3 separate regions of the Homo sapiens genome follow, and regions 2 and 3 are each linked to region 1. The links come from fine-mapping of genetic effects on gene expression. A gene starts in region 1. Each other region holds a variant in brackets. All regions are shown on one strand. Distances are from middle to middle. Region 1 holds the start of SFT2D1 (SFT2 domain containing 1). Region 2 holds the start of PRR18 (proline rich 18). Region 3 holds the start of LOC107986668 (a long non-coding RNA gene).

Region 1 (8,180 bases):
TGCCTCTCCCCGGGGCTCAAAGCGCCTGCATAGGAGGATGATGCAGCCTGGATGTCAGGATGCTCCCCTATGACCTTCACTGCCTCGCCCAACTCCTCAACTGGCCTAGAACCATCCCTGTCAAGACCCAATTCCAATGTGCCCGCCATCCTGGTTACGTCTTGCTGCACAAGACGTGCAACACTCTCAGGTCATCCCTCACCCCATTCAGGTCTGTGCGCCTTTAATCCCATCTCATCTCCTACCCATCTCCAAAAACCAACAGCAAACCTCCCTATGTCCTCACCCTCTTCTCTGATGATCCTCTCACCTTCCGGCTAGGTTTGAAATTTAGTCTCCAGGACCAGGGCTCTCCCCTGTGAATCCTGTACCACTTGGACAGGCAGTGAGCTAGGTGTCTGCCCTCCTCACTGCCACTTCCTGCCCCTTCCTCCTCCCTAGAGAAACCTGCTTTCCAAGTCACTCCTCAATAGCCCCCTAGCAACAATTCCCTCTTGCCTGCACCATAATTTTCCCCTTTCCTGGACCATTCCCAATGCACAGAAACATCCAGTATTTTCCTTGGGAAAATGACATGTTCCCCGACCCCACTGCATCCTTCAACTACCACCCACTTCTTTGCTCCACAGGAAAAATCACTGAGATGGCCATACCATCTCCATCTTCTTTCTATTCTCCCCTGACTTCAATCAGGCCTCTGACCCCATCCAGCCACCAAGACTGCTCTCGTGGAAGTGACAACTGATAACCTCCACGGGTAATCTGCTCTTAACTTCTGAGACCCATCAACAGTACTGGGTCCCATCCCCTTCCTAAAGCACTCTCTTCCCTCACTTTCTGGGGCATCCTTCTCTCTTGGTTCTCCTCCTCCTTCTCTCGCCACGCCTCTCAGCTGTCTTTGCCGGCTTCTGCTCATCCTCTAAACTTCTACACACCTAGAGAAAACCAGAGGTCAAACCTTGGACCTCATCTTGACGATCTCATCTCTCTCCTATTTCCTCCCACAAACTCTACAGTGTTACGTCCAACTGCTTTCCTCACATCTCCACTTGGATGCTACCTGGATCTCAGACTTCACGTCCACACTGAAATGATTTTCCTCCCTGAACCTGCTCCTCCCACAGTCACTTAATGGCAACTCCACCTCTCCAGATGCTCAGGTCGAATGCCATGAGGCATCCTTGCCTCCTCCCACTCTCACACATCCAATCCGTCAACAGTGTGGCCTGCTGGCTGTACACTCAGACCATTTACAGAATCTGACCACTTTTTTGTTTTTTAAACAGGCTTTTTTGCTCTTTAAACCACTTCTATCACTGATTTGAGCCACAGTCATCTCTTGCCAGGACAACTGTACTTGTCTCCAGCCCAGTCTCTGGGCTTCTAACATTGCCTCTACAGTTTGTTCTCCACAGAGCTGCCAGAGTGATCCTTTAAAATCCAAGTCGGTCACACCACCACTCTGCTCTAAACCCAAAGGCTTCCTATCACACTCAGAGTAAAGCTAAAATCCTTTCTATGGCCTATGAGAACCCTCACAATTGAGAATCCCCCTTCCTGCTTCACCTTTTCTTCTACAATTGTCCCTCTTCTCTGCCCCGCTGCTAGAGCCCCTCTGGCCTCCTTACTGGCCCTGAACATGCTGACCACACACCACTTGGGACTCTGTATCTGCCTTGGAGGCTTTTATTCACAGGATGCTCAGACATCCCAGCAGCTCTTCTGAGCTGTGCTCACATGACTCCCTGGCAGGGAGGCCTTATCTAAGTAATATGGCAACCCCAACCTCCTCAACCTGCTCTGACTTTTTCTGTGGCTGTCTGACACATTATATACTTGTTTATTCACTGTTTCCTCCAATTAAAATTTAAGTTCCATGTGAAAGAGGTATTTGCACTGGTCACTGTTATTAACACCTGCATCTTGAACAATGTCAAACATATGCAGGAACTTGAATATTTGTTAATGAACGATCACCTCCTCTGAACTCACAGCACTTGTCTATACAGCCAGTCACTCTAATCTTTGATTGATTACTTCTCCACATATCTTTCTCCCCTCTAGACAGTGGGCTCAAGATAAGTGATATTACCTTTGCATCTCCAAAGTTTAGAGTAGCACTGTCCAATAGAACTTTCTGCAATGCAAATGTTCTGTATCTGCGCTGTTTAATACAGTAGCCTTTAACCACATGTGCCTACTGAACATGTGAAATGTGGTTGCTGTGACTAAGGAACTGAATGTTAAATTTTATTTAATTTTAATTAATTTAAATTTAATTGCTCCAGGCGCAGTGGCTCAAGCCTGTCATCCAAGCACTTTGGGAGGTCAAGGTGGGCGGATCACTTGAGGTCAGGAGTTCGAGACCAGCCTGACCAACATGGTGAAACCCCCATCTCTACTAAAAACACAAAATAATTAGCAGGGCATGGTGGCAGGTGCCTGTAATCCCAGCTACTCAGGAGGCTGAGGCAGGAGAATTGCTTGAACCCGGGAGGCAGAGGTTGCAGCGAGTCGAGATCACGCCACTGCACTCCAGGCCTGAGCGACAAAGCAAGACTCCATCTAAAAAAAAAAAAAAAAAAAATTCATTGGCCACATGTGGCTGTGGTAATATACAGAGTTACAGAGTGCAATGAGAACAGATACTTGTCTTACACTCTCTGAACCCAAAACTGTAGCCCAGAACTCTACCCACACCAAGTGCTGAGTAAGTATAATGACAAGGAAGTCAGGAGAGACAAATAGAAGATCCTTATGAAATACAATTCAATTTTAAACGTCCAACTTCTGCGACAGCACACAATAACGTGCAATATAATCGCATGCAATAACAAAAAAACTTACACCGCAGTTCCTGCTCCACTGCTACTTTTAACCTTCTTGCTGGAGGAAGTAACCCTTATCAAGTCTCGCTGGTAAGGCGCAGACACAAGGGCTTTTATTAAGAAAAAAAAAAAAATCTCTTACCAGGGCTCACTGCCTTAACAGAAAAATTTTAATTCAATATTATTTCACTTACCAATGTCCTGTTTATTTTTCCTCCAGTCTCCCTATTTCCAAAAGACCACCCCCCAGCAAACACACACATAACACCACCTTTACCTCCAAAGACAAACAGATGCAACAAGCTTTAGGGTCTCGGCTCACTGCAGCTTGCAGGATAAATGCCCTGCATAGCTACTTACGCTGCACAGCCCGAGGCCAGACCCCGCACCAGGCTCAGAAAACCAAATAGTACGTGGGAGCGATGGATTATTTGGGAAAGCGAGGGCAGACGTTAGCGGATTCCTAAGTCAGAAGGCCAGATGGGAGAGTCGGGGGGGGGCCTCAAAGTGGGTTTAAGTAGACCGCATGGAAAACTGGAAAGTTCTCAAATTCTACCCAGGAAGCAGGCGGAGCCCTCCTAAATCAACCAGCCGGGCAGAGGAGTCCCAGACCCCCGGCCTCGCACCCACCCCACCCGCTCGGCCGGTCCTCAGTGCGGCCGGGGCCAGCGGGCAGCCCCGGGACTGGACGAGGGCGCAAGTTCGCTACCTGCGCAGTCAGGCCCTGCTCCTCGTCGTCCTGGCCGCTCAGGACTCGCCGCAGCTTCTCCATGGCCCTGTTACAGGGCCGTAGCGGCCGCCACTCTGTTGCCTGCCCCTGACGCCCACCAGGAAACCCCGAACCCGAAACCCCACAGACCAGCCGGAAGTCCGGTCCCGCCCGCTTCCTGTGCGTCAGCGCGGCCGCCGTAGCAATGCGCGCATGCTCACCAGCCTTTCTCTCGGACCCGGTAGTGGTCCGTGAAGTCCGCGGAGTGGGCGCTGATGGTGGGGCTATCCCTTCCCACTGTCCGCGAGGTGCGCCGTGGTAACGCGCGGGGACACAGCGCGGGTGTGGACCCCCTGCCCACAGCTGGCGCACAGCCATTGAGTGTAGACCCGACTGGGGCACGACCACTGAACCCTGCACTTGGCGTCCTCCGGGCCCCGCGAGGGGCCTTGCTGGGCGGGTCCGCGGCACCCCGGGTTCCCAGAAGTCGAGGCCCCGAATGCGCCTCCCCTCGCCTGGAATCGGAGAGCGGAGGGCTCCTGCGGGCAGGTGGCCGTGCTCCGAAGAGCGCCCTGCCACCCATGAGGTGGCCCTGGGGGCGTCGCTAGCCTTCCCAGCTGGGTGTCCTCATCCGGAGACACAAACACCTGCCTCAGGATTAAAGCGAGGAGCTGTATTTCAGACCGTCTCAGGAGAAATAGCAAGAGGCTGCCTCACTCCTTTGCCCTTGTGAGAGCTATTTCTTTACTCAGTTCACTGGTCAGCTAGGAGTTTGAAAGAGTGAAATCTTATTTATAAAAGGAATAGCTAATGCAACCCATTTTTCCAGTTTTGTGTGAACAGTGAAACCATTGAACAAGCGTTTACTGTTCTCCGGCTCGTGCTGGATGAACAAACACTAAGAAATGGGGAAGTGGCATTTTTCTCTCTCTCATTTTCCACCATGCTAAGAAAGGAGATTAAAAATCAGGGCTGCCTGTCTAATATGGTCTCCAGAAGTCATTAAGTGATAGGTTTTGCTCTTCTGTTTGCTTCTAGGCTTGGTAAGATGGTAATGAGAATGCCTGTTCTTTTGATTACTTTGCCCACTCCATTTCCTCCCTAAAATCTTTCAGTTAAAAGGTGGATCCTCAAAAAGTTTCATTGTCCATCCTACTGCCTCAGTAGAGATTTTATCTAAACTCAATTAGATAAAAACAAATACCACAGGAACCCTAGGAAAGCAAGTCGCGCCTTCTTGTGATGAAACGGTCCAATGCTCAGCATCCTTTTCCTTTAGGCAGAAGATATTTCTATGTGGCCTGTTCATACTAATATGAGAAGTCTTATCCTTATGTCCTTAACTTTAAAAGGTCAGAAAATAGATTGTAAAATCTATAGAATAAAACTATGTTTCTGTTGAATAAGAGAGTATGTCCGTAAGTGTTACGGGAAAGGGGTCCGGATCCATACCCCAAAAGAGGGTTCTTGGATCTTGCGCAAAAAGAATTCAGGGCAAGTGAAAACAAGTTTATTTAAAAAGTAGAGGAACATCGGTAGTCTGAGGCAGAGAATTGCTTGAACCCGGGAGGCGGAGCTTGCAGTGAGCCGAGATCGCGCCCCTGCACTCCAGCCTGGGCGACAGAGCGAGACTCCGTCTCAAAAAAAAAAAAAAAAAGTAGAAGGACAAAAGAATAGCTACTCCATAGGCAGAGCAGGGCTGTCTATTACCAGGGCTGCTGGTTGCCCATTTTTATGGTTATTTCTTGATGATATGCTAAACAAGGGGTGGATTCATGCCTCCCCTTTTTAGACCATATAGGCTAACTTCGTGATATTGCCATGGCATTTGTAAACTGCCATGGCGCTAGTGGGAGTGTAGCAATGAGAACGACCAGAGGTCTCTCTTGTTACCTTGGTTTTGGTGGGATTTGGCCGGTTTCTTTACTGCAGTCTGTTTCATCAGCAAGGTCTTTATGATCTGTATCTTGTGCTGACCTTCTATCTTATCCTGTGTCTTAGAATGACTTAACTGTCTGGGAATGCAGCTCAGTGGGTCTCAACCTCATTTTACCCAGCCGCTATTCAAGATGGGCTTCTCTGGTTCACATATCTGACATAACTGCTTTCAAGATTTTCAAGTATAGGCCGAGCGCGGTGGCTCACTCCTGTAATCCCAGCACTTTGGGAGGCAAAGGCGGGTGGGTCACAAGGTCAGGAGTTTGAGACCAGCCTGGACAATATGGTGAAACCCCGTCTCTACCAAAAATACAAAAATTAGTTGGGCATGGTGGCGGGCGCCTGTAGTCCCAACTACTTGGGAAGCTGAGACAGGAGAATCGCTTGAACCCAGGAGGTGGAGGTTGCAGTGAGCTGAGGTCGCTCGTTTGCACTCCATCCTGGGCAACAGAGTGAGACTCTGTCTCAAAAAACAAACAAAAAAACCTTACTTCCTAGCTCTTCCTGCTTCCTGGCCACATAGTTTTTTCAAGAGCCAATGACTCCTGAACACAAGGACATGCACAAAATTGTTGGGGTGATCAGACCCAACACCAGGTTGTGGGAGTGACAAAGTCCAGCAGAGTCAAAAGATTGAGAAAAAAGTTTGAGAGAGAAATGTGGGACAACAGGGGCCATTGCTATTGCGGAGGCTGTGAAGGCCCCGAGCTCTGGGAGCCCACAGTGTTTATTGGTAATCCAACTAAGAAACAGGTGGTGAGAATGTGGAGGTCATGTTGCATTAAGCACATGATTTACAGCTGTGACAGTTTAGCATTTATATGGAACATGTTCTGCTACTTGAGATAATGGGAATAGGTGCCTAGGAGCCTAGGAAGGCTAGAAGCAAGGAGCCAGCAAGTCTAGACACATTCCAGAGGACATTATGCAAGCCCTGCCTCAGTTTCCCCCCAACACTCAGCTTTTTCCCAGCATGCCCCCCTTCTCTTTATTGTAAAAGAGAAGATATCATTATTACTAGCTATCATTATTACTAGCATGGCTCTGGTTTGAATGCTTCCCACATATCTCCCCTTTCCCTTTTACAAGAAGACCCTTAATCCTAGGGGTTGCAGAAGGATGAAGGTCCATCTTCTGTAACTTCTTCATGCTGAATAGGGGTGACGATATTCCTGTCTAACTGTTAGGGTCTCTCATATTCAGGGTAGAGAGGAGCTGAGTCAGAAAGCATTGGCCCGTTAAGCATCGTGACTCCGGTCGGTCCTCATTCCTTCTTCGCATTCAGATTCAACTGGCTCATGGCTCACACTGGGGGAACCCGGTCCAAGGTTGGGATCCATGGGTACCTCCAGTCTCCCATTCCATGGTCGTACACATCTTGAGGGTATCCACACGGTTTGTTCATCTCCTGCAAAAACACAAGCATACCCTCACCCCCACGTTAGTAAATCTACTGAAACAGAAGCAAAAACTTTTGTGGCTGTAGCCGGGAGGCCACTGATAATGAGAAACAGGCCTTTTCTGATTAACAGAAGGCATAGAGAAAGCAAATCGAGGCTTTTCAAACCTTCAATTCGCACTGTACTCTACATGTGGGTCCACTAGATGCCGTGGCTCGTGATAGATCTTCAGATGGTTGGTGGGCACCCACACAGACACCTGAGTGTCACCTGGAGAGACACAAGCAAATCCTCTTCCCCACAAAATTATCTTTAGGCAGGGATCAGAGGACGTAGATTCAGAGGTAAAGAGAATTTGGGGGGCCTAATGGCTTCCTCATGTTTGATAGGTGTTCCCTCGGAAGTTAGGAATTCCCTTTCTCTCCATATTGCTGCGTGGGCTTGGAGGACTAGGTAAGCATGCTTAGAGTCTGTATATTTAACCTTTTTCCTTCTAATTCTAGTGTATAATGGCCCCTGCTTTTGCTAGAATGTCTCTCCCTAACAAAGGAGTGGGGCTTTCGGGCGTAATTAGAAAGGCATGTGAAAAGAGTAAATTTCCCCAGTCACAACTTAGTGGCTGGGAGAAGTATCAAGTGACTGCCTGTCCTAGGACCCCTCAGATAGTGACAGATCTGGAGGACAATTGTCCAGGACAGGAGAGTAAGACTGAGAAGACCGCACCAGTGTCCAGGAAACAGTTAACCTCCTGGCCCTCAATGGTCAAGCATACCTGGGGCTCTGTGTGGGTGATGGCATGGGCTGGTGCTTGCCCTGGTACCCTCAGTCCTGCTGCTGGATCATCTGGTTAGTGGCTTCTGACTCAGAGGACCTTTGTCCCCCAGGGCAGTGGGACTTCAAATTCAAATTCTGAGGCGTTTGTTGTTAGGAGTAGAAAAGTACTTTCCGAAACACATACCTTCTCCTTATTGGAATATCCCCTTTATCTACTAAAATGTACAGAAAACTCTAGGGCAAAAACTTCCCAAATGTTTGTAAATCTCAACTCCTCAGATGTAGTGTCTGGGCTAGGTAAGGCAGGGGCATAGACTGGAAAAAGTATAAAGCTTCCATTTTTTGTTTGCAACCAATTCTTCTGCAGTGATTAACAAATGGCCTTGATGCAAATAAAGAAAATCTACCCCTTAACTGCCCTCTGCCTCCATGAACATGCCTAGATGGAAATGTGGGTAGTGAGAGGGGACTCTTGATGTCACAGAAGGGTGCTTGGGACAAGGGTTTGTTAATTCATTGCCATTTGCTCAG
Region 2 (8,180 bases), 37 kb before region 1:
CTAAGTGGTGGGAAGAAGCTGAGGATCTTATCTTGCTATCATATTCCATAAGTGGCCTTAAAAAGCAACTGAAACCACAGACCACGTTCTGGGTTGGATCTTGTCCCCAACACCCCCAAATTAATATTAATATATCAAAGCTCTAAATGCACTGTGACTATATTTGCAGAGAGTGCCTTTAAGGAGGTAATTTTAAGGTTAAACGGGCACATACGTGAGGGCTGTGATCCAACAGAACTGGCATCCCTGTAGGAGAAGGAAGAGATACCAAGGCTCTATGAGGACGCAGTGTGGGAGGCGGCCGTCTGCAAGCTAGGAAAGAGGCCTCACCAGGGACTAGCCTTGCCGGCATCTTGATTCTGAACATCCAGCCTCCAGAACTATAAGAAAATAAGTATCTGTTTTTTAAGCCGCCCAGTGTGTGGTATTCTGTTAAATTGGCCCAAGTAAACAAATACAGATCAATGGCTGTCCTAAAGAACCGCTCAATATTGACTGTCCTCAAACCAAAGTCATTGCTCTCGGCAGACCTGGATACACCTTTGGACATGCTGACCCATTAGATTACGTAAGGAACAGTTCCAGTTAGTTTTGTGTCTCAGATACCCTTCATCCTGTAGAGGCAGGGTAAATATTTTTTGAATGAATAATAACTGAACAATTCTGGGCCTGCTGGCATACTATCCTGCTCAAAGTGAAATACTCAACAGATACTTGTTATAATTTCCTCGTAAAATCAGGTGTTGAGCTCCATGCACTGTCTGGGGTTGGCTTTTCAGGACACGCCCATGCATCTGCAGTTCTCAGAGCCTGCCTCCCGCTCTGGTGACAGGATGGCATCAGGAGTGGCATCAGGAGTGGCATCGGGAGTGGCATGTGCTGTGTTGTAGAAGCTTGTATCTGGGAGGCTCTCATAATTATGCTGACAGAGGTAGACGAGGGAAGACCTAGGACACAGTCATCAAGGGCGGGGACTCCGGATGAATGAGATGTGGGGCAAGGCCCCCCAGAAGTGGAGTGGCCAGCACTCCCAATTCTATGAGCTGGACGGTGCCTAGGCTGATGACATGGGGTCACTTTAGTTATTTTTGGTCATTGCATCCTACCCTCCCTGCCGTGAAAACACATGGCCAGGAAGGGAGACATGACTACCTAGAAAAGGAGACTCTATATTGACAGAGTCGCATTGCAGGGTCTCTTGTGAGAGGACACAGTTGGTTAAATCCACCTTCAATAAAATCTGCCTGAAGTATTTCCTGAGCCTGGTCGTGTATTTCTTGCCATATAGCAATGGCTCCCAACCTGGTGGCACATCAGCCCTTTCCCAGATCTACTGAATTAGTATCCCTAGGTCTGAGGTCTGGAATATCTGTTTCTTAAAACACTTCCCATCCATTTCAGATGCAGCTAACCCAGCCTTTACAGCAGGCACTAGGAGCCAACATGGTATGGATGAAACCAGCAGTTTGATTGTTCTAGGGTCTCTTAGTTCTGATACAGGAAGTACTGATAGATAAACCTACACTGAAGAAGGTTCTTTGGCTTCCCTCAATACTTTTTTTCCCTTCAATAATTTTTGAGACTAGAAAGAGGTCACGAGACCAAACATTTAAGGACTGATGTCGAATTGTCTGAGGTACTAGGGCAGTACTTGCTAAATATTTGAGCAGATCTAAAACTGCTTCCTGAAGATTCCCTACTGTATTTTGTAGGTTTCCATCCACACCACCTCCATAAGGTGGGATGGTCCAGTTCCAGCAAGGATGTCGCTGATAATGACCCCACTGGCTTTCATCAAGAGCTAATAGTAATGTAAAGAACATTTAGGCATCTTTGGCCGGGCGCAGTGGCTCATGCCTGTAATCCCAGCACTTTGGGAGGCCGAGGAGGGTGGATCACGAGGTCAGGAGATCGAGACCATCCTGGCTAACACAGTGAAACTCTGTCTCTACTGAAAATACAAAAAAATTAGCCGGGCATGGTGGCTGACACCTGTAGTCCCAGCTACTGGGGAGGCTGAAGCAGGAGAATGGTGTGAACCCAGGAGGCAGAGCTTGCAGTGAGCCGAGATCACGCCACTGCACTCCAGCCTGGGTGACAGAGTGAGACTCCGTTTCAAAAAATAAAAAAACAACAAGAACACTTAGGCATCTTCGAGAAGCTGCATTTAAGGATACTACTATCCATTGTGTTGTATATAATCCAAATACACACATAACAATTTTCTCCAAGAAGTGTTTCTTGTTATTAGATATTGAGATTATATGACTCTTACTTTAAACTTTGTCTCTGCTACCAGGAAGCTCAGAGCTAAATTTTGTGCTCATAACATAATAATTAAGTGTGAGATAAGAAGGCAAAACACAATAGACATTTTAATTTTTTAATTCCTCAGGAATATAAAAGTGTAGGTGTGCATTAAATGGTTAAAGATAAAAATCTCAGAATGCTGTAACTAGGGAGGTTTTGAATGTGCACAAGAGTGCCAGAGTTTTTTGAGTAGTAAAGACTTTTTTGAAATAGTAAAAATTACAGTTAACTTTGAGCTGGGGGAACGCTTCGCATATTGCCTCATAATCCTCACCAGGGTCACCTATGTTCAACTATCCCCACAGACAGAAGAGGAAACAGACATGGAAGTTTAATGAAAGATGTGGATAAATGACAGCATCAGTGTGGCAACTCCAGCCTCTAGGGCACCAAAACCCACCTTGAACCATGGTGCGGTACCTTCTCCCACACAATGCTGAGGGGCGCTCTGACTCCAAGCCAGACCAAGGGGCCTCCACTACAGGCCATGGGAGCAGCTGTGCCCTTACCCAGGCAGCATCTGGACAGAGGCCATGCTGGGGAACCACATCAATCCAGGTTTCCCAGAGGTCACAAAGGCCTGTGTGTGCATTTCTGTTGATGCAAAAGTGTCCTTGCTTACTAGAGAGACTGTTATTTTCAGACTTTCTTTGAATGATATACCACGGTTGGCTGAAAAGCAGAGATCCCACAGATCACCCACCCTAAACTGAACCGCGTGATTTCCAGGGAAACCCCACAACTAATGGTTCTGACAACTTGGCATCCACTTTTCTAGAAATAAGGCAGATCAACATAAAAACCTATCTTAAAGTGCCAGCTATTCTCTAAATAGAGGGAATTAAGTCACATATATGCTCAATCTTTGGAACTGGCAACACTTTTACTTACATAGTGGCACCCAATTTTCTCTCCTGGGATGGAAGTCCTCCTCAGTCCCTGCTATGAGATATTACAGTTATGGGAGAATTTGATAATAATATAATAGTAATCTAATAGTCTAGCAATTATTCAAATTGACCCTTTAATTTCTGATTGGTATGACCTACCAGTATGAAATTACTTTAGGCAAAATAAAAAAAATATTCTAGTGAGTGTATATAGGAGGAGTCCTTAACCTGGGACCCATGAGCTTCTTAAAATATATGCAAATTATATGCAATGTTTTGTTGCTATGTGGTACACGGTTTTAGGAGTCCTTTTGGAATATAGCTTTCACGGGGATTTGTGGCCCCATAAAAGGTCAAATGTCATTGCCAAATAACCTTACAGTATTTGACTATCTTAAAAATCCTGGTAGTGATTTTTAAAAATTCTAGTAGTGATTAAAACCAGCAAACCTTTTTCAACTCCTGGAAATCCCAGAACCTTAGGTTGAGTGCCACTATGAAGAAATCATGTCATGTGAATTGTAAATCCCTCAGTAGTCTCTTCCTGACCAGTTTTCAGTGTCCCCCTCAAAAAGAATCACAAGTCACTGAATTTCTCTTTTATTTAAGCATTAAGAAATTGGAGCATAGCGACTTAGAAAACTTTCTCAAAATGTCCTTAACAGCAATGAAAAGATATCATGTGTCACGTGTAAAACCTTTTTTCTG[T/C]TTGTTTTTTATTGAAGCTCATTGACCAGGGAAACATAAATGTTCCACTCATCTGCTTTTAAAGTAGAGAACAAGGCCCACAAACTCTATTTAATAAATACAAATTACTAAAAATGCGCTTAGTGTTGTATTGTGGCCAGTTAAGAACAGGAGATGCTGGGACAGAGCCTACAGAAAGGGCGGGAGAAGAAAGGAAATCAAAATGAAGCAGCTGACAGGGACGTCAGGGAGACACACAGGTGCAGTGACAGCCACACTGCAGCAGAAGCTCAGCTTGGAAGACAGAGGCTGCAGAAAGTCGGTCCCTCTAGGATGCCACCAGGGAAAAGTCTTCAAAATGTTGTTGTTACTGTGACCAAGGGCAGAAGTCTAGGCATCTTAATTATTGGTATTTGCACTAAGTGCAAGACGAGACCAAGTTGAGCCACTCCTGCCCTCGGCTCGGAGTCAGTGCACTCTTGCTCCACCCTCTCAGCTCCAGACCGTGTGCCCTGCCCAGGACGGCGCACTCAGAGACCATCTGGGTGGGGGTGGAACAAGAGCAGCACCGTCACTTGCATAAGCATTGCTAGTTTTGCCCCTCTAGAATTAATATATTCATTTTAAGTAAAAGAAAACTTATCTCCAAATTCAAAGAAGTTATTCAATGGGTAGGTTTTTTTCTGTTTTTGCAACTCATCTGGCAGCTGACCTAGCTCCCAATGAATTAAATGCTTCACATCTAACTAAATGTGTGCCTAGAATTAGAGAGAGAGAGAGAGAGAGACAGTGTGTGTGTGTTATTAGAGCAAAGACCTCCACAAGAAAAATACAAAATCTGTTTTAAAAATGTAAGGCTTCAATTTAAAATACAATTAAGACTTGATACATTTAAAGTCTATCAAGATAAACATTAAACCAGTTATTGGCTTTTACAAAGTCAGTCAAAAATTGAGGTAATACATTACTCTTTTATAACCAGCCTTATCTGATTATAACATTTTATTTCCTTCTCATCCTTCTAGTTAGATATTCTCAGATACATGGAAGAAATATGTAGAAATCAGCCTCCAGTTAGCGGGGGAAAGGATATGGTTACGAAACAGCGGAGGAGCTTTACTCTCTATTCAAATAATACACAGAAAAAATGTAATCAGCCGAGCGGTTTCCATGGAAGCGCTCATTGACCAGGGCTCACCAGCGCCTGGCGATGCCTACCCTTCCGCTTTGGAGACTGGAAATTCGGTTAACTGAGTTTCAGGGATGTCTAATACCCTCAACATTTTTCTGACTTGGGAGAAAACAAAATCACGAATGTAGGACCGGGTCCCAGCTCTGCAGGAGGCCACCGTCGCGGCCACCCACCTGGGCCATCGCCCACCGCACTGTCCAGGGTGCCCGGCGCCGGCTGAGGGTGACACCACGGGGCGTGCAGATGTAGCCCTGGGGAAGGCCCGCCTCCAGGCAGAGGGTCTCTGGGACCTAGACGAACCCTGGGGGTCGGGGCACCAAGAGGCATTTTCTCAGTTGCTTAATTCCCCACGAACTGCATGGATGCTCGGCGATGCCAAGAGGAGGCCAGAGTGGGGGCAGAGGCAGGCATCTGGGGTAGATACCACCGGTGTGAACGAGAAAGGCCCGGGCTGCCGGCTGGCGAGGGCAGGAGGGGGGCCGTGGCCGTCGGGCGAGTCTGGCTGCGCCCCACGTGGGCCAGCTTGCGCACTGGTGTCCCGAAAGTGGGCGCTGGCGGCCAGAGGAGCCTGCGGTCTCCCCCGAGGGCCCCTAGGCGGAGTGGCGCGTGCAGGAAGTGAGGTGGGATCAGGCCTGGCCTGTCCCCGCAGGCCCGCTGGGCTCACAGCGTGCTCAGGTGCCGCCGTGAGTCCAGGGCCCCCGCCCGGCCCCGCGCGGCAGCCGCGGACTCCACGCCGCGCAGCCACTCCGTGCACTTGCGTACCAGGCCCTCGTCCACCGCCTCTGGCTCCTCCTCGTACTCCACGTCGTCGTACCTGTGCCGCTCGTTGAGCAGCGACACCTTGAGCATCGGCCGCAGGGCCCCGGGCCGCGGGCTGAGCTGGGGAACCTGCAGGCCGCCGTGCAGCAGCTGGGCGCCGGGCGGAGGCGCGCGGCGGCCCTGGCCGGCGGTGGGGGGTGCGTCGGGGTCGCTGGCGGGGCCGCCCCTCCGCGGGCCCGCGGCCCTAGCCGGGAGACACGGGGCGAGTAGGCGCCTGGGTTCGGCCGAGGGTGAGGGGAAGGGCCTGCGGGGCCGCGCCAGCAGCTGCTTCTCCAGATGACGCTTCTGGATGACCAGGACGGCCTCGGGGGTGAGATTCAGGCAGAAGCGCGCAGCGGAGTCTGGACAAGGCCCCGCCCCCGAGGAGGTGCCCGCGGCGGTGGTCCCCGTCCCCGCCGAGGTCGCCGCATAGGTGGTCCTCGCTGGGCTGTGGCCGGAGCCTGCCGGCCGGGGCGGGGCGCACGTGGCTGGGGCCCGCGCGCGGCTGGGCAAGGCCTGGGGGGAGACGCCCGGAGGGGCCGGCGGCTGCGTCCTGTCCAGGCCGGGGCCGCGCCGGGCCGGCGGCCTCTTGAGCGTGGCGGAGGGCCAGGAGCTGGAGAGGAGCCCCTCGGGCCGCTGTGGGGGCCTCTTCTTCTTGTCCCCCGCGGCGCAGGGCCTCCGGGGTAACTGGCGCGCGGCTTGGGCCCCCGGGGCGGGGGCGGGCGGCGGCGGCATGGGCGGGAAGGGCATAGTGCAGCCGAGCCGCCGGATCCTCAGCCCCTGGAAAGAGAGGCGGGCGCTCAGCCACTGTGCGCGGAGCGGGTCCCCGCAGTCCGGGCGGCCCCTCCACACCCACCTGCGTCCAGCCGCGGCCTCTCCGGCTTCCTCACATCCCAGCGACCAAACCCGGGGACTCAAAGAGAGGCGCTCCCACCCTCCCCTCCTCCTGGGGGTGCTCCCGGGACTGGACCCTGCAGGAACCGCCTCCCGCCGTCCGACTGTGGGCGAGTCGCGGCGCCCCCGGGTCCCCACAGCTGAGACGCGGGCCGGGCCGGCAGGAGGAGGAGCCCAGCGCGCTCGCTAAGGACGCGGCCCTGCCAGGCCCCGGGCTGTGCCCGGCTGGTGTCACGACCGACTGTTGAATGGGAGCAAAGTGCCAGGACAGCGGAGGGCGGAGCGCGCGCCAGGCATCCCGGGGCTCCCCCAGCTGGCGCTCCGGTGGTCCGAGGTTAATGTAGTCCGTCGAAAGCCAGGAGCATTCCCCTGGGGGAGCCGGCAGCCTTCCGGAGTCACAGGTGGAGGCCCTGCACGTTTCAGAGAAAATCCCCTGTAGCCTCTCCGTGCCTTCGAGACGGCGGGAAAGGCACCGCCAGTAGATGCAGCTCTGCGGCCCCGGACACATCCTGCTTCACAGAGAAAAGCGGGCTGGAGCTGAGAGGGGAGAAATGACCCTCAGTGAATCTTACATAGTGTTCATGCCACCCCTTGAGGAGTCACTTTCAAATTCAAAACCTAAGTATCTATGAACAGGCAAAATAGTTCAGTTTCAGCTATATAATGCTGATTACATGGCAAATATTAGACATCAAGTCCCTTTAATAATTCTTATGAGCAAAGCAATATATTTATCACTGTAGCAGAGATTCAGAATTAATGAGATAAATCTTCACTGTCAATTTACATTCTAGTCGTAGACACATGAAGACATCCTACAATATTCAAATGTTTGTTTAATAAATAATTGAACAATTGCAAAGTGACGGATCAAAAAGTCAACATTTCATGTGTGCAGTCCCTGCATTACTTAAGGATAATCATCAGCTGCTTAGATCTCCACAAAGTACTTTCCATCAGATACACTTTTCTGATGGAAACCAGGTGTGTGATGGTTACGGCCCCAGGTTAGCTCCAGAGCACATTCAACTGTGGGTAAACACAAATGTGCCCTGTGCCAACAGTCACAGCAGGACAGCATGGCCCTCCCCCAGCCGCCTCAGTCTCCGAGGCAGCAGCAACGCCTCCCCTTGTTGACTGTTGGTGGCCTCAGAGAACTGCGCTGTGGATACATGGGAGCGTCAAGGAAACCTGGCAGGTGGTGGGAAACACTTCTCACCAGAGCTTGGGTTGGGGTGACAGGTTTGGGCCCTGTCATCTCTACCAGCACCTCCCAAGCCACCCCAATACAGCTCTGAAACAAGCCTCCCAGCTCACAGGCACTTTCCCTCCATCCCTGCCAGCCTGTCTCTGCCGGTGGGCTCAGGCTGTTAATCGGCTTGACAGGTGAGGTCCTAAGATACTGAAAC
Region 3 (8,180 bases), 83 kb before region 1:
AATTTACTTATTAAAGTTGAATTTGACTTTAATAAGTTGAATTAATGCAATTGCTCAGTAAACATTAATTTAATTGAAGCTCATTCTTATCCAGAATAAATATAAAATGCAAGGTTCTTTGTGACACAAATATTTATAGAAACAATAAGAAATAACGTAGCTGGCTGGCTCATACCTGTAATCCCAACACTTTTGGAGGCCCAGGCGGGAGGATCACTTGAGCCCAGGAGTTCCAGACCAGCCTTGGCAACATTGTGACACTCCATCTCTACAAGAAAAAATTTTTTTAATTCAGAAAATTATTCAGATGTGGTGGCATGTGCCTGTGGTCCCAGCTACTTGGGAGGCTGAGGGGGAAGATCTTTTGAGTTCAGGGGGTCGAGACTGCGTGAGCTATGATTATGCCACTGAGCTCTAACCTGGGCGACAGAGTGAGACCCTGTCTCAAAAAAAAAAAAAAAAAAAAAAAAGGAAGGAAGGAAGAGAGAGAAGCAAACAACTAGAAATACTAGCAATATAAAAGTGATTAGTTTTGTATTTATATGACATTTAACTAATAAACTCTAAAATATTAGCTGAAAGAACAAAAGAAAATGCTTGCCTTTATATTGTCTCGTGTTCAACATAATTATGATAATTTAAAAAGATGTAAAGATCTTCATTTTAAAAATGTGTTGCTGAAAGTGAATAAATGAGTAAAACTGAGGGGAAATAATCTTTTCCTCTAAAGCTTAAAAACTTAGTAAATAAATAGCATAATATATGGAAAGGACATAGGCTTTGGGTGAATCTAACTTGGGCTCAAATCAAGCTCTATCCTTTGGGCAAGTTACTACATTCTCCAAGCCTCAGTTGTTTCAACTGTAGATTAGACTTGGTAATAACACCTTCCTCCCAGGATTGCTCAGGGAATAAGGTAAAGTCTGCAAAGTGCAGGGAGCTGTCTGGCAAACGGTAAAAAATGAAAGCATAATAAGTAATACTTTTGCATCCTACAAGTCTTTCTTATTTTTTTAATTAAAACAAATTTTTTATAGACACGTCTCTCTCTGTCATCCAGGCTAGAGTGCAGTGTCACGATCAGAGCTCACTGCAGCCATGAACCCCTAGGCTCCTGGGCTCTTGGACTTAAGCTGTCCTCCCACCTCATCCTCCTGAGTAGCTGGAACTACAGTCATGAAGCTTTATGTTAAGTTTCATCTACTAAATTGTAACAACTAAAACTTGAGGACTAAAATATATGGAAAAATTACTACTACATGAAAAATTGTGTTAAAGTCGTATCATTTATCTCTTTATTAGTGAACTGGGCTATAAATGTTCTAAAGATATGCTCAGGCTGGGTGTGGTGGCCCACACTTGTAATCCTAACAGTTTGGGAGGCCAAGACAGGAGGATCACTTGAGCCCCACAATTTGAGATCTGCCTGGGCAACATAGCAAGACACCATCTCTACAACAACAAGGAAGATAGTGATATGGTTAGGCTTTATGTCCCCACCCAAATCTCATCTTAAATTGTAATCCCCATAATTCCCATAATCCTCACATATCAAGGGAGAGACCAGGTGGAGGTAAATGAATCATGGGGAGAGTTTCCCGCATGCTGTTCTCATGATAGTGAGTTCTCACGAGATCTGTTGGTTTTATAAGGGGCTCTCCCCCCTTCAATGGGTACTTCTCCTTCCTGCCACCTTGTGAAGAAGGTGCCTTGCTTCCCCTTCCACCATGATTGTAAGTTTCCTGAGGCCTCCCCAGCCATGCTATACTGTGAGCCAATTAAACCCCTTTCCTTTATAAATTATTCAGTCTCGGGTAGTTCCTTATAGCAGTACAGAAATTGACTAATACAGATATGCCCAAATTAATAAAAATGATGCAAACCAATAATTGTGTGGCCACTAAAATCTTTACTTAACTGGCATCACACTCTTTACTTATGTTAAAGGAATAAATTGCATGCATTAGTTATCTATTGCTGTGTAGAAATTCCCCCACTGCAGCAATGTAACACAACACACACCTATTATCTCAACGAATCCGTGAGTCGGGAGTCCAGCGACAGACTTGCCGGCTCTCCTGCTGGGGTCTCACAAGGCGGTCGCCAGGTTATGTCCAGGGTGGGTTCTCATGCGGAGTCTGACTGGGGGAGCGTGCATGCCCCTGCTCGCATGTGTTTGGTAACACTCAGCTCCTTTCAGTTGTAGGATCTGTGGCAGCTGCTGGCTTCTTCAGAGCCAGTGAGGGAGACAGCGAGTCTCCCCAAAAGACAGTCCTGTGTGATGTGAGTCATCCCCAGAGTGACATCCCATCACCTTTGCTGTAGCCGTTGGTTAGAAGTCAGTCACCAGTCCTTCTCTGTGACTCAGGGGAGATGACTACATAAAAGGCAGTTACACCTGGAGGCACCTGGGAGTCTGCCACACGCCCCCCTGCCTCCCTCGCATGTGCAAAAGTCATTCACCTGCTCTAGGTACCTAAGATTTTCGGAGCTTCATGGCATCAGCTCAAAGCCTGAAATGTCAACATCTAAATCAGGTCAAAGGTCAGTGGAGGGTCATGGTGCAATCATTCGGTTCAGGTTCTGGGACACAATTCCTCTCCATGGATGGGCCCGGGAAGCTAAAGAGATTAGTGACCTGTCCCGTGGTGGAGCAGGCACCAGATGCAGCTGTAGACATTTCAGTTTTCAAGGGGAGGAAATGGCAGATAAAAGGCATCTTGACTGTGTAGCAATTCCAAATCCAGAAAAGTAAAGGTTGGGAGTTCTCAGTCAGGTTTCCAGGGCTGGGGAGAATTCTCCTGGCTTCTGGATTCCCTGTCTGGGCTCTTGGTCCCCGCATCTACACTGCACTTGTTTGGAAGGAAAGGTTGCCCATGTTTGCAGCTGAGGAGCTTTTTAGCCTACTTCCAGCCAGCAAAATCTGGGGAGTCTGGCAGCCTCCTTTCATCCTGTGCTCTCTCTGTTCCTTCCCACCCAGGCTGGCAGTGTTTCTGTGAAAGTGATTTCCTCAAAATCTTTGTCTCTCATGGATTTCACCTGGGTCTACTCCATGAGCCGAAGGCCTCACCTGCCGATGTTTTTGAGGCAAGCCTTTTCTATCTTTGAGTCCTGCCGAGGTGACTCGGAGTCAACGCCCTTCGGCTCCTCAGGGGCTCCCTGGTTCGATCCATGAGGCTCAGCCCTGACCTCTCTAAGGCACCCTTGGTGGGGCAGAATGCTGAGGCTATGATCTTTCTGAGGCCTTATCCAAAGGCTGTGCAGACACAGCCCAGCCACCTGGGCTCCTGGGCTTACACTGTCTTGACAGCACCATCTCTTGCTATCTGGAGAGGCCGACGCCTCAATTCTGGACGTCTGGACCCAAACCGTGAGACATAAACTTCTGTGGCTGTCCTCTGCCCAGTTTGCGGTCACATGTCGCAGCCGCCCGAGGTGACTAAGACAGGAAACTAAAGTGGCTGTTTCTTCCTCCAAGCTTTCGAAACTTTTTTTTTTTTTTTAATTGAGACAGAGCCTCGCTCTGTCACCCAGGCTGGAATCTAGTGGCAAGATCTTGGCTCATGCAACCTCTGCCTCCCAGGTTCAAGCAATTCTTCTGCCTCAGCCTCCCTAGTAACTAAGACTACAGGCGCCCAGCACCACGCCCGGCTAATTTTTATATTTTCAGTACAGACAGGATTTCTCCATGTTGGCCAGGCTGGTCTCAAAACTCCTGACCTCAGGTGATCCACCCGCCTTGGCCTCCCAAAGTGCTGGGATTACAAGCGTGAGCTCCCGCGCCCAACCTGAAACTTGGTTCTTTATCAACTTAGGGTCCCGGAGAGCAAAGCACCCGGCCTCCCATCCGCCCAGTGTCTTGCAGCGTCATCTTCATTTCCACCAAAAGGTCACGGATACATTGCTGCTTTCGCACCCAGCACGTTTTAGACAGTAAGCTTGTTCATGTGTCTTTCGCACCCAGCACGTTTTAGACAGTATGCTTGTTGATGTGTCTCTGTCCTTAACTCGGTTGAACTTTCTGAGAAAGTCCCCTCAGCATTTTAGAACTTGTGATGTTTCAGAATGTGGCCTCTAACCAGACCATAGGGCTCAGCTGGCAGCCCTGCTGCCTCCCAGCAGAGGTCACATGAGCTTCTTGTGCTTCCTTTTTCTCATCTGCACACTGGAAACGACAACAATAGAACCCATCCCACAGCGGGGTGCTGGCCAGTTGAATTGATCCCCACAAAGTGCTTACAACAGTGCCTGCCCCATAGCAAGTGCTGTATGCACACTGGCTATTGTGACGTTTGTATCCTAATACAAATGAAGATTGACCATGCTAAGGATGCGAACATTTGCTGAATGAGCTATAATTTGATATTCTGTCCTAAACATTCAATTATATTTGCTTTTCTTAAAAAAAAAGAAAGGTGTGATTGTGTGTGTGTGTGTTTACTATAAGCCACATCAAATTCTTTCAAGCAATAGGTATAAATGAAATAAGCAGCAGCAATTTATAAGGTCCCTTTCTACTCTAGAAATCTAAAAGTAAAACTTCAGCAAACCTAAAGTTTAGGGCAATGAGACAGGCTGGATGGTCGGGTTGCCTGGTACCAAGGTCTGAATGTGCCCCTCAGAATTCATGAATTAGAAACTTAGTTGCCCGTGCAAAAGTGTTGGGAGGTAGGGCCTCGTGGGAGGTGTTTAGGTTATGAGAGCTGTGCCCTCATGATGGTTCAATGCCCCTATAAAAAGGGCCAGTGGGAGTGGGTGTTCTCTCTTGCTCTCTCTCTCTCTCTCCTGCTTTTCTGCCATGTGAGGACATGGCGTTCCTCCCCTCTGGAGGATGCGGCATCTAAGGTGTCATATTGGAAGCAGTGAGGCTAGGCCTGAGCTGCCAGGGCCTTGATCAGGCCCCAGAACTGTGAGAAATAAATACCTGGCCTTTGTAAGTTACTCAGTCTCAGGT[G/A]TTCTCTTATAGCAGCACAAACTGGACTAAGACATGTGGGTAGCAGGATTTAAAAATACATTTTAAAACATTTTTTTGTTTGACAGTTTCAAAAATGTATCCTACTTCCCTCCTTCTCTGACTTGTTTGTTTTTACCATGTATTATTATAGTTGATTTTACACAAATACACTTTTAGACTAACTCATTAACTCTGAACATCACTATGTCCCCCTCTATTTCTAAAAATAACAAAAGTGATTTCTATTTATTGAGCACCTACCGAGTGCCAGGCTCCATGCTGGGTTCTATTTTCTTTAGAACATCTATTTCATTATTACTTAACAATTATCTGCTTTACACATTATAAGCCAAACTCTGTTCTATACTCCATGTGGGTTTAACTGAATATATAGTCACCACAGCCTTGCAAAGTAGATATTTAATTACGCAGGTGAACAAACTGAGGCTTGTTAAAAAACTAGAACAAGGTCTCACTGTGATTCCAACCAGACTTGTCTTACCATTATTACAAATGATGCTTTCTCTCATGATAGACATCTATAATTTACCTAGTTGGAATTGCTGCACACATTTTGTTTGGTGTTTTGATTTTTTAATTATATTGTGTATATATTTCCATGTAGCACATAATAATTTACATAATTATGGTAACTTTGTTACACCCAATTACCTACTTCAATTCAGCTAATTTCCTCTTGGTAAACATTGATTGAGTGTTTATGTGCCAGATTCTATCAAATGCCAAGGAAATAAAAATAACTGAGATAAGGTTCCTAACCCCAAACTTTCATCTAGCCAGGAGACATACATTATGTGAAAAGATAAGCATAACGCAGTGTGATACATGCATTTCTCAATGGTTGCACATTTGAGTTATTGCTAACTTGGCTGTTATCAATAGCGTTAGTACTGCCAGGCACGGTGGTTCACGCCTGTAATCCCAGCACTTTGGGAGGACGAAGCGGGCTGATCACGAGATCAGGAGATCGAGACCATCCTGGCTAACATGGTGAAACCCCGTCTCTACTAAAAATACAAAAAAAATTAGCCAGGCGTGGTGGCGGGCGCCTGTAGTCCCAGCTGTTCGGGGGGCTGAGGCAGGAGAACGGTGTGAACCCGGGAGGCAGAGCTTGCAGTGAGCTGAGATCACACCATTGAACTCCAGCCTGGGTGACAGAGCGAGACTCCATCTCAAAAAAAAAAAAAAAATAGCTTTAGTACAAATATTTTCACCATACCCCTGAATTATAGTTTTCAAAAAACACTAAGAAGCCAAAGCATAGGGACAATGGCCCTGCTTCCATTATGACAGCCAGACTGCTTTCCAGGATGCCTGCACCAAGCTCGTTTCTCAGTATCCAGTGCGTGGAAAGAGGATGGTCACACCTGCCCTTTACGTCACGAAGAAGAGGTTATGAGGCTTCACATAATCTATAAATATACGTGGTTACTGCTGATGTGTAAAGCGTAAGTATCCTTTGACTACTTGTTTAGCAAAGTGTGGATTATATGTTCATGCCTATACATTCATATCAATCCGTGTGCATTTTGGATGTAAACCTGTATCATCTTTTTACATTTATTGTTTTCAGATTTCATTGTCTCTTACAAAACAAAGTTCCTTTTCATTGTGTATAAAAGTTTTTAATAATGTTATTTTGTTAAGCTTAACTATGATGTCTCTGATTATATTATTTTATCTCCAATAAGCAAAAATGAACATCTCCACCGTTGAGATGAACGAATTTTTTCATTCAAAAAGCCCTGCTTTTCGCGATTGGCCTTGCTTGTGATTAGTGCATAGTGTGTGCAGAGTGTAAATGTGAGAGCGGGCCCTGATTCTTCAGCACTTCCTCTCCCACATTTCATTATTCCAGGCTTATGATATCTTATACTTTTAGAACTTTGGATTTCTTTCTGGAGTTGATTCCCATGCCCTGAGTGTAACATTTCCGTATAGATAATTATTATTGTATAATACATTGTTTTTTTTTTTTTTTTTGAGACGGAGTCTTGCTCTGTCACCCAGGCTGGAGTGCAGTGGCATGATCTCAGTTCACTGCAACCTCTGCCTCCTGGGTTCAAGTGATTCTTCTGCCTCAGCCTCCTAAGAAGCTGGGACTACAGGCGTACGCCACCATTCCCATCTAATTTTTGTGTTTTTACTAGAGATGGGGTTTCACCATATCAGCCAGGCTGGTCTCAAACTCCTGACCTCATGATCCACCTGCCTCGGCCTCCTAAAGTGCTGGGATTACAGGCGTGAGCCACCGCTCACGGCCTATTGTGTAATACATTCTAAACCTGTCGCCAGTTCCCTTTCATTACCTCATTTGACAGAGTAAGTGGTCAAACCTCTGAGGAGAGCTGAGGAAGGCCAAGGCCTGAGGTCCTCGAGGACCTGGGAGAGCTTCAGGTCTGCAGAACCAACCCAGGAACTGCCGGGCCGCTCCAGGGGCCCACTTCTACTGCCACGAGCATCTTAGGTTCTCTTGCTGACAGCCCCTGATGCCTGCCTGCCTGCCTGCGTGTGTTGCTGCCACCTCTGCATTTCTCCAGCCCTCTGTCTGTCTGGTGGCCTGGTCTAGTGGCCCCAGCTGTCTAGGTCCCCACTGCTGTGGCTGTGATCCTGCGTTGTGCAGGAGGCGCAGCTGCCATCCCCGCAGCCACAGCAAGCCTGCCAACTCAGGCTCAAGCAGAAGGGGAGCAGCGCCCCCATTCTTCCTGCTGGATGACACCCCAGCTCTTGTCTCTTCCTGGAATGGAGGTGGGAGGGCTTGGGGAAGATTCCACCATGATAGGACCCCATCTCCAAACTAAGGGGCAGCTCTTTCAGTTACCGTCCTCTACAAGAATTTGCTTTAAGTTCCAAGAAACAAAGGTGGAATGTATTTTAACACCATCACACATCGAAAGTGTTCTTTCCACTGCTGATGGCTCCATTCTTCAAGTCAAGGGCATATCTTTAGGGTGTTCTTGGGGGTATCGGGGTCCTGCTACCAGAGACCTCTTCACAGGTGTCCTCAGAAGTCCTGGGTACCCTCATCCCTCCTTATCTCAGAGACCTCTGAGGGGATGCAGATGAGGCCCCTGGTAAGCCTGCCCAGGGCCTGGCTAGATTTCCACCCCAGGGAAACCTGCTCTTGAGGACTCTGCAACATCCCAGTGACCACCAGCAGCCCATCTCTGTTTCACAGTGGTGACAATCTCCAGGCCCACACTAG

Evidence for each region. PIP is the estimated chance that this variant, and not a neighbour inherited with it, causes the effect.
Region 2: its variant is fine-mapped to the expression of SFT2D1 in whole blood (TOPMed, PIP above 0.99).
Region 3: its variant is fine-mapped to the expression of SFT2D1 in whole blood (INTERVAL, PIP 0.91).

The regions. Positions count from the first base shown.
Region 1 is chr6:166,338,882-166,347,061 of GRCh38, forward strand. SFT2D1 (SFT2 domain containing 1) reads right to left here and starts at 3,664. Exons shown (of 8, transcript NM_145169.3): 1 at 3,538-3,664. The coding sequence starts at 3,600. It overlaps LOC100289495 (a long non-coding RNA gene), which reads left to right and starts at 3,750. Exons shown (of 2, transcript NR_040022.1): 1 at 3,750-4,266. RefSeq lists a silencer at 3,375-3,534 and an enhancer at 3,596-4,489.
Region 2 is chr6:166,301,516-166,309,695 of GRCh38, forward strand. It overlaps PRR18 (proline rich 18), which reads right to left and starts at 6,877. Exons shown (of 1, transcript NM_175922.4): 1 at 3,785-6,877. The coding sequence starts at 6,627. The coding sequence ends at 5,740. LOC107986669 (a long non-coding RNA gene) reads left to right here and starts at 6,033. Exons shown (of 3, transcript XR_001744464.2): 1 at 6,033-6,208. RefSeq lists a silencer at 6,360-6,959 and an enhancer at 7,030-7,309. The variant T/C (reference allele first, on the strand shown) is at 3,909.
Region 3 is chr6:166,255,681-166,263,860 of GRCh38, forward strand. LOC101929297 (a long non-coding RNA gene) reads left to right here. Exons shown (of 5, transcript NR_125862.1): 5 at 1,061-1,267. LOC107986668 (a long non-coding RNA gene) reads right to left here and starts at 3,351. Exons shown (of 2, transcript XR_001744463.3): 1 at 2,023-3,351. RefSeq lists enhancers at 2,333-3,532, 2,745-3,612. The variant G/A (reference allele first, on the strand shown) is at 4,955.